Linked DNA regions of Homo sapiens: region 1 is linked to region 2. The links come from fine-mapping of genetic effects on gene expression. A gene starts in region 2. The other region holds a variant in brackets. All regions are shown on one strand. Distances are from middle to middle. Region 1 overlaps GNB1 (G protein subunit beta 1). Region 2 holds the start of NADK (NAD kinase).

Evidence for each region. PIP is the estimated chance that this variant, and not a neighbour inherited with it, causes the effect.
Region 1: its variant is the best candidate, but not a certain one, in a credible set for the expression of NADK in whole blood (TOPMed, PIP 0.51).

Annotation. Positions count from the first base shown.
Region 1 is chr1:1,815,040-1,819,428 of GRCh38, forward strand. GNB1 (G protein subunit beta 1) reads right to left here. Exons shown (of 12, transcript NM_002074.5): 4 at 2,798-2,836; 5 at 717-823. Among named protein-coding and RNA genes, the nearest start is that of NADK, 39 kb to the left of the region's middle. The variant CATT/C (reference allele first, on the strand shown) is at 1,968.
Region 2 is chr1:1,776,218-1,780,606 of GRCh38, forward strand. It overlaps NADK (NAD kinase), which reads right to left and starts at 2,253. Exons shown (of 12, transcript NM_023018.5): 1 at 2,072-2,253. RefSeq lists a silencer at 1,769-2,968 and enhancers at 4,029-4,198, 4,209-4,268, 4,279-4,348, 4,359-4,389.

The DNA of each region.
Region 1 (4,389 bases), 39 kb after region 2:
AGGCGGAGCTTGCAGTGAGCCGAGATTGCCCCACCGCACTCCAGGCTGGGCAACACAGTGAGACTCCGTCTTTAAAAAAAAAAAAAAAAAGAGAAAAGAAAAGAACAAATAGGAGCCCATGAAGGGAATTATCTCTTGGGATGGTAAACCAAAGGAAGGCAGGGCAGACAGGCCAGATGAGAGAATGGTGAGAGCAGCTCACAGCGCATTCCCGTGTGTCTGCCGCAGCAAAGCACACACAGCACAATGCTGTTCTAAGGCTCAATACACTTAATCCCTCAGGATCCTCGGGGCAGGTTCTGTGATTTCCTGAGCCAGGGCACTGACATCACAAGAGGGCGAGGGCCAACCAGCCCTGAGAAACAGGCACAGAGAGGTAACTTCCCCAAGTTCACATAAGTAGGATGCAGTAGAACTGGGAAGACAGAGGTCTAGAAACTGAAAGAGACAGGAGAAGGGAGAAAGAAAAATCAGAACTTGTATTAATGTGATTCAGACAGTGAAGAAATGGCAGTGTTCTTTCAGCCCAGGTAAGTGGAAAACTGGACAGGGAATATGCACCTGTGAACGCTGCACCTTGCGTGCCCAGAGTTCTGATTCAACTTCCTAATTTCTTCACTGCACAGCACAGCAAATGGGTTCAGGTACTTTTCCCCTAGGACAACAGAGCAGCCCCTGAATGTAACAAGCAGCATCCTGCTCATGCCCACGCCTACCTGGAGTCTGTGCCCCAGTGCATGGCGTAGATCTTGGCCAGGTGCCCCCGCAGTGTCCTCCTCGTGCGCATTTGGATTCTTCCCACTGGGTCGATGTTGTTTGTGATCTTGAAAATAAAAACATTTCTGTAAATCAACATCTGTGATTAAACGATTCTCCTCATCACCCATCCTTGTCAAGGCTGTTGGCTCGCCCACTGTGCCTACCTCTTCCCAGCCCTTCCCACAGTTCTCCAGTGGCTTCCACTGTGGCATTCTGCACTGAACCCCTTCCGTACCTCTTACCAAGTCTCAGTCTGGCTGGTCATCAGGAACCTGTGTGCCCTGCCCTCCAATGCACGCACACGAACATGGCCAGCCTTGAAGCACTTGCTGTTCCCTTCCTGCTTCCTTCCTCCTCTCCCTGTCCATCCAGGACCATCTCCTCCTAGGTCTCTGAGTTCTTTGAGATCTCGCAACTCTTCTTATGACACCACACAGATGTCCCACACCACAATTTAATAGCTGGTTCCTATGTCAGGCTATGTGTGGGCCTGCATGACACCTGCTTCTGCACGACCATCACTTGGAGCACCAGCTGTACACACACCTGCTGAGCCCATCCTACATATAGACACTGATGTTAATGAGTTTAGGTTGGCAAACGGAGTAAGTGGATTACAATAGTGGGTTTTAAAAACGGACAGTCCAAAGTGCTTCTCAGAATTGAAATTCAGGTAATTCTATGTAGCCTAATTTTTTTTTCTTTAACTTACAATTTAACCTCAATTAAAGCACATCCCCTAAAGCATTTAGACAATGTAAAAAACTTAATCATCTTCAGTAGAAGTAGGAATATAGTTTTTCTTTCACATTTCTGTCCAATTATTTGGACTTTATTTTTATTATCTTTTTTTTTTTTTTTTTTTTTTAAGATGGAGTCTCGCTCTGTCTCCCAGGCTGGAGTGCAGTGGTGCGATCTCTGCTCACTGCAACCTCTGCCTCCCGGGTCCAAGCAATTCTCCTGCCTCAGCCCCCTGAGTAGCTGGGATTACAGGTGTGTGCCACCATGCCTGGCTAATTTTTGTATTTTAGTAGGGACAGGGTTTCACCATGTTGGTTAGGCTGGTCTCGAACTCCTGACCTCAAGTGATCCACCTGCCTCGGCCTCCCAAAGTGCTGGGATGGACTTCATTTTTTTAATAAGGTGAAGTTCACGTAACATCCAATTAATCACTTTAAAGTCTACAGTTCAGTGGCATTTAGTACACT[CATT/C]GTTGTAAAACCACTGCCACCATCTAGTTCCAAACCATCTTCCAAAAGGAGACCAGACATTGATTCAGCAGTCACTCCCTGTTCACTTCCTCTCCCTCTCTCCCCTAACACCCCTGCTGGCCACTAGTCCACTCTGTCTCAGTGAATGTTACTATTCTAGATATTTCATATAAATAGAACTAAACAATACATAGCCATTTGTTTGGCTTCTCTCACTATCGTAATATTTATGGGGTTTATCCACGTTGCAGCCTCTGACTGTACTGACGTCCATTTAATGGCTGATAATACTCCAGGGCACAGAGACACCACAATTTGTTTCTCCACTCATTCATTTATGCACATTTTGGTTGTTTCTACATTTTGGCTATTGTGAATGGTGCTGCTATGTACATGTGTGTGTTTGAAAAGCAGTGTTCAATCCTGTTGGGCATATATTTAATGGCAGAACTGCTGAGTCATACAATAATTCTATGTTTAACTTTTTGAGGTATTATCAAATTGGATATTAGAAATAGAAGTTCTGAGGCAGATTCTGTTGAGGAGAGGAGCTTCAAAATATCTTAAGACAATAACAATATTTTACAACTATTACCCTCTGTAACAGGTAGATGATTATTCAAGGCTTGAGATATCTCATTTTTATCTCAATAAGCCCCTCTATTTCCTATGCCTACCATCAGAATGACTTCTTAATAAAAGCAGTGGCTTGGCATCCTCACTGCGCAACAGAGAATGCAAGCAGAGCCCTCCCGAGGCTCCAGGTGTGGGTGCCGTGCTAGCCTCCTCACAGGCAGATGGCTCTGCGTGACTCAGTGGGCTCTTACCTGAGAGAGAGTTGCATCTGCACATGCTTTCCTGGCGTCCTGGGAAGCAAGGACAGTGAGAAATTAGCAACCTTTCAGATACATTCAATCTCAGGTCCACACATACCAAAGTTTCAAAGAGAGCTTTCCTAAGCTGTCAGGAGCAAAAGCAGAATGTGAAAGAACGGCAGAGTCTCCTTGCATCTCAACACCCCATGGTCTACTACCATCTGTGGACTGTCCAGGCCACGCTGAACAGAGAACCAGTAGTACCCAAATCTGTCTAAGACCTGCAGCACAATATTCCTGGGGACCCACAGCTGTGGCCAGCACCGAGGAGACCACACTGCAAGCTGGGGCAGCACCCACACACCCGGGACCCTGGTGCTGCCTGTGCCCTCACTGCTGCACAGGCTGGCACACACGACTTGCTCTTTTTACAAAGCCCATCTAGGGTCAGGAAGGCTGTGGCCCAAAGAAAAGGTCTATTAAAAAAAAAAAAAAAAAAAAAAAAGTCTAAAAAGGACCAGATACCCAGCCCAAAAAAACTTTTCTTCAGACTGCATTAACTAAGTACTTTGTTTTCAAGAGAAACAATCATTAATTCTAAATTCTATGGAGGGCGCGGTCTCACGTCTGTAATCCTAGCACTTTGGGAAGCTGAGGCAGGAGGATCTCTTGAGCCCATGAGTTCAAGACCAGCCTGGGCAACAAAGTGAGACCTTGTCTCTACTAAAAATAAAAATTAAAAATTTAAGGAAAATAGGCTGGGTGTGGTGGCTGACACCTATAATCCCAGCACTTTGGGAGGCCGAGGTGGGTGGATCACCTGAGGTCAGGAGTTCAAGACCAGCCTGGCCAACATGGTGAAACCCCATCTCTACTAAAAATACAAAAAATAGCTGGGTGTGGTGGCGCACGCCTGTAATCCCAGCTACTCAGGAGGCTGAGGCAGGAGAATCACTTGAACCCGGGAGGCGGAGGTTGCAGGGAGCCGAGACTGCGCCACTGCACTCCAGTCTGGGAAACAGAGCAAGACTCCATCTCAAAAAAAACAAAAATAATAATAAAATAAAATAAAGGAAAACAAAGAAAAATAAATAAATTCTATGGAAAACGAGCAAGGGACCTGGAGCCAGACAATCAGATGTACATGAGCCTCTTGGCTGTTCTCGTTGCTCATCTACAAATGACCTGCGGCTGCAGGTAGGCACTGTGAAGGGATCCACCAATGCTAACTCAAGTGTCTTCATTACTAAGGGATCAAAGTTACTAGAAAATAGACCTGGAAATCTCAAAAGAGAACGTACGTTTAGAAATAGAAAGGTACGTAACATGAAGGAAAATAAGACAATGGCTAACAGGTTTAAAGTTTGAGTGTTGGTATAATTTTTTTTTTAATCACAACTATTTTTTTTTTTTGAGACAGAGTCTCGCTCTGTCTTGCCCAGGCGGGAGTGCTGTGTCGCGATCTCAGCTCACCGCAGCCTCCGCCTCCCAGGTTCAAGTGATTCTTCCCGTCTCAGCCTCTTGAGTAGCTGAGACCACAGGCGTGTGCCACCACACCGGCTAATTTAGTATTTTTAGTAGAGATGAGGTTTCACCATATTGGC
Region 2 (4,389 bases):
CGTTTTCATCACGAGCGCCACTTTCCCCCTATTTGTTCACCGCCTCCACTCCACAAGAACTGCTCTTGACTTGGCCAACTTTCTGGGACACCCTCACTACAAGGATTTATGAGTCAAACAGGTTTTTGTGCTAGCCTGGAAATCTAACTGCTGACAGCAGTTGTTTCAAGAAGAAAATGCTGTTTTGGAACCAAACAGCAGGCTGCCAACTGAAACAACATAAACCCACCTCCAAGTTCAAATGAAACAAACAAACAAAAAGACTGGTCCAAGTGAGGCAAGCTGTGGTGGCTCACACCTGTAATCCCAGCACTTTGGGAGGCCAAGGTGGGCTGATCACGAGGTCAGGAGTTCGAGACAAGCCTGGCCAACACAGTGAAACCCGTCTCTACTAAAAATACAAAAATTAGCTGAGCGTGGTGGTGGGCGCCTGTAATCCCAGCTACTCAGGAGGCTGAGGCAGGAAAATCACTTGAACCCGGGAGGTGGAGGTTGCAGTGAGCCGAGATTGTGCCACTGCACTCCAGCCTGGGCAACAGAGCTAGACTCTGTCTTAAAAAAAAAAAAAAAAAAAAAAGACTGGTCAAAGTGGCTTACGTCTGTAAGATCAGCACTTTGGGAAGTGGAGGCAGGAGGATCTCTTGAGGCCAGGAGGTTGAGACTAGCCTGGACAACACAGTGAGACTCTATCTCTACAAAAAATTTTATAAATCAGCTAGGTGTGGTGGTGCAGGCCTGTAATCCCAGCTACTCAGGAGGCTGAGGTGGGAGGATCAATTGAGCCCAGGAATTTGAGGTTACAGTGAGCTATAATCATGCCACCATAAACACGCCTGGAGGACAGAGTGAGGCCCTGTTTCTAACATACACACACATATACACACAGAAACATCTCGAGAGGACACCTCCAAATGATGAAGCTATTTTGTTGGGTACTGCGGTGGCACCTGTGATTCCTCAAGTAGCTTGGAATCAGCGTGCTAACACCATAAAGTGGCTGCAAAAGTCCCAGTGAAGTCACTGCTGAGAGCAAACAGGCCTTACAGAGAAGTTCCAAGGGGACAGGAAATTTCCAGAGGCTTGAGAGGACAATGTTCAGGGGAATAAGTACTTGAAGGGAATTATCTAACAAGGTGTTAAAGTAACTAGCTTCTTAGACAAGATGACATCAGGAGGAAAAAAAAACTTATTAAGGCAAACATGTCAGTTTCAGGCCAACTAAGGCTGTCAGAGAGACATGGAACACAAGAAGAGAAGAGTTTTGAAATGTATTCCCATCAAGAGCCAAGAATAATGAACTTTTGAATGTAAAACTTAGTGTGTTCCAAAACAAGAAAGGAAAAATAACTTGTTACTCGGAATCGAAGCCAAAAGGAATCTCATTGCTTGGGGAGGAGGGATGGGAGGGTGGGGGTGGTCCTTGGCCTGGGAAGGAAAACTCCACCAGGCCTTCGGAGCTGGGCACGCCCTGTTCCCACAATTAAGAAAAAAAACGACGACCTAGAGCTCAAGGCCGGTGCTGACATCTGACCTACTGGATGGCAGCCGCCTGTAGGAACATCACCATAGACTATTGGAATTTTCTGGCAAGTACTGGGCACTAAATCAGAGATGTGTTTTTAGAGAATTCCATGCCAATACTGCTGTATAGAATCTTTTATTCATACTTTCCCACTAGGTTTGGGCCCCTCTAAGCTTTCACGAGTCAAAGACCCCTCCTGCTTGCTGAAACCACCCACGGAAGGCCGGACACCGAGGACCTGGCCGCCCAAGCAGAGGCGACTGACAAGCGCGGTCCGGGCTGGACGGCCCCACCTTCCCCGCCCGGGAGAGCCAGGCCGGACAGCGGCCTCCCTCAGACCCGTCCCCAAGGCCGAGCCTCGCCCTGGGCCGTGCTGGTGCCCCATTCGGGACGGAGCGGTGGCCCGTCAGCACTTCCACGGCCTCCTCAGCAGGCCAGATGGGCAGGGCCGGCCTGGTGTCTCCCCGCCTGGCCGCGCGCTCGCGGGCAGCGATGACCCCAGGCAGCGGGCGACCCCAGGCGGACGGCAGGCCGGGTCTGCTCACTCACCGTTCGCTGCCGCGGGCGCCTGCGGGGGCGTCTACATGCCGGACCGAGCCCGCAGGCCCCGCCGCCGCGCCGCCGCCAGCCGTCGCTACCTGGCCCTTGGCGCCCTGGCCGCCTGTTGCCCCATGGCCGCCCGGACCCCGGCGCCGGCGCCGCCGAGCAGCAATGCGCCGCGCCCGCCCACTGCGCAGGCGCACCCGCCACGCATGCGCGCTGCCGCGCACGTGGGGCGTCCCGCGCGTCTGCCGGGTCCCACCGGCGCCGGGACACCCCGCGCGGGCGGGAGGCGGCGGGCGTGGCGGGAAAGAGGCGGGCGGTGGGGAAGAGGGGCGAATCGCGGTGGAGAGCAGTGACCAGGGAGTGGAGGCGGGCAGCGGGGACAGGGGCGGGCGTCCGCGACTCGGGTAGGCGGGGGTCGGCGCCCCGAGGAGGGCGGCCCCCGGCTCCCGTCCCCACTCACCTGCCGCGTCCGGAGGGCGCCCCCGGGTCCGCCCGCCACGTCTACGCCTAGGCGCCCCCGACATTGTGATCCCAGCCCGGCGTCCCGCCCCCAACTCACCGCCACCGCGGGCGGGACCTCCCGGACCACGTGGGCCGGCTCAGGGGAGTGCAGGTGCCCCGCGAGAGCTGGCCCCGCCCGCCGCCGCTTCCCTAATTACCGGGCTGTGACACGGTGTGGGCCGAGCCGGATTTGGGAACCGAAACTTAGAGCAGCTGCGGCAGCGCTGCGCTCCCTCGGGGCTGTCCGTCGGGGCTGGGAGGGCGGCCCTGCGCCTGGGGGAACCGCGATCGGCCTCACGCCCACCTCTAGCGGCCAGGTGCGCCTTGCACGCCCACGAACGTCCTCAGAGGTCTACGCTTGGGATCCCAAGGCTGGCAGTGGAGGGAGGACCCGGTGGCCTGGGGCACCTCTAGGGGGACCAGGGAGCCGTGTTTTGCGCACCCCACAGGCTGGAGGACTCGGGGAGTTGGGGGAGGAGGCCAAAGCCACAGGAGCGGACTTTGTAGTGTTTGTTGGAACTGCGGGTCCCACCCAGCCCGCACTTGCTGAACTGGTGGCTGCTCATCAGCGCCTTCAGGCCTCAAATATCCCAATAATGTGCCCTATACCCAGTTCTCAGCTCTCGAGTCACTGTCAGGTAAACTGGCAATGCACGACCAGCTGCTCTAACCTGCTGGTCCCCCAGGTGCCAGACATTGTTTTGTTTTTCTGAGATAGTGTCTCATTCGTCCCCCAGGCCGGAGTCCAGTGGCGGGCTCACGGCTCACTGCAGCCTTGACCTCTCAGGTGCAAGCGATCCTTCCACTTCAGCTTCCCTAGTAGTTGGGACTACAAGTAGGTCCCGCCACACTCGACTACTTCATTCATATATATATATATTTGTGTGTGTGTGTGTGTGTGTGTGTAGAGATGAGGTTTTACCATTTTGCCCAGGCTGGGTCTCAAACTTCACCCGCCTCGGCCTCCCAAAGTACTAGGATTATAGGCGTAAGCCACTGCACCTGGCCCAGCCATTGTTTTCTGAGGTTCAGTCCCTGTCTATACTTTCTGTGTGATCACCTGGCCCAGGGTCGGTGTGGACCTGAGTCCTCTGCAGCCCTTCCCCACACCCGCATACCTGCTCTCTGGTCAGGACTCCTGGGACTTGAATCCAGAGACACGGAACACGGCCTGGCCAAGTCTTCCTGAAAAACACAGCTCTTCAGTTCAGGACCACAGTGAAGTACAGGGCACCAAGGGTGACTGGAAAGGGAAGCAAGGATCATGAGAACTTGGGGGATTTCTTAAGCTCTGTAACTTCTCCCGGGGTTATTTTGCAAACCCAACTGTTTCAAAGTGACCACCAGCCACACCCACAGAAGCGGCCTTGAGCTGCCCAGTTCTTTTTCTTTGGCGGGGGGAGAGGGGGCGGATAAGATCATTAACATAATAATGCGTGAGCTGAGTTTTTGCATATGATCATTAGCATAATAATGCTTGATCTAGATGGCGCACCCACAAGCCAGGCACTGAGCCAGGCCTCAGTAGAATCTTCTAGAGTGGAGGCAGTCAACTGCTTCTGCAGAGGCAACCAGTGACTGTCGTGGGCCCCAGGTCACACAGCAGGTGCCCTTCGCGTGTCCCGCTGTGTAGGGAGCTCCAGCAGCTGCCCCGTCTGTGGCATGAAAACCCTTTGTCTACCCTGGGCCTGGGCACTGCCTGCAGGAGAGCTTCCCTGTTTCAGAGATGAGAAAACAAAACCAGGGCTGTGGTTTCCTTCAGCTGACAGGTTGTGCAATTTCTCAGGGCAGGCCCCGGATATGACCTTGAAGATTCAGGG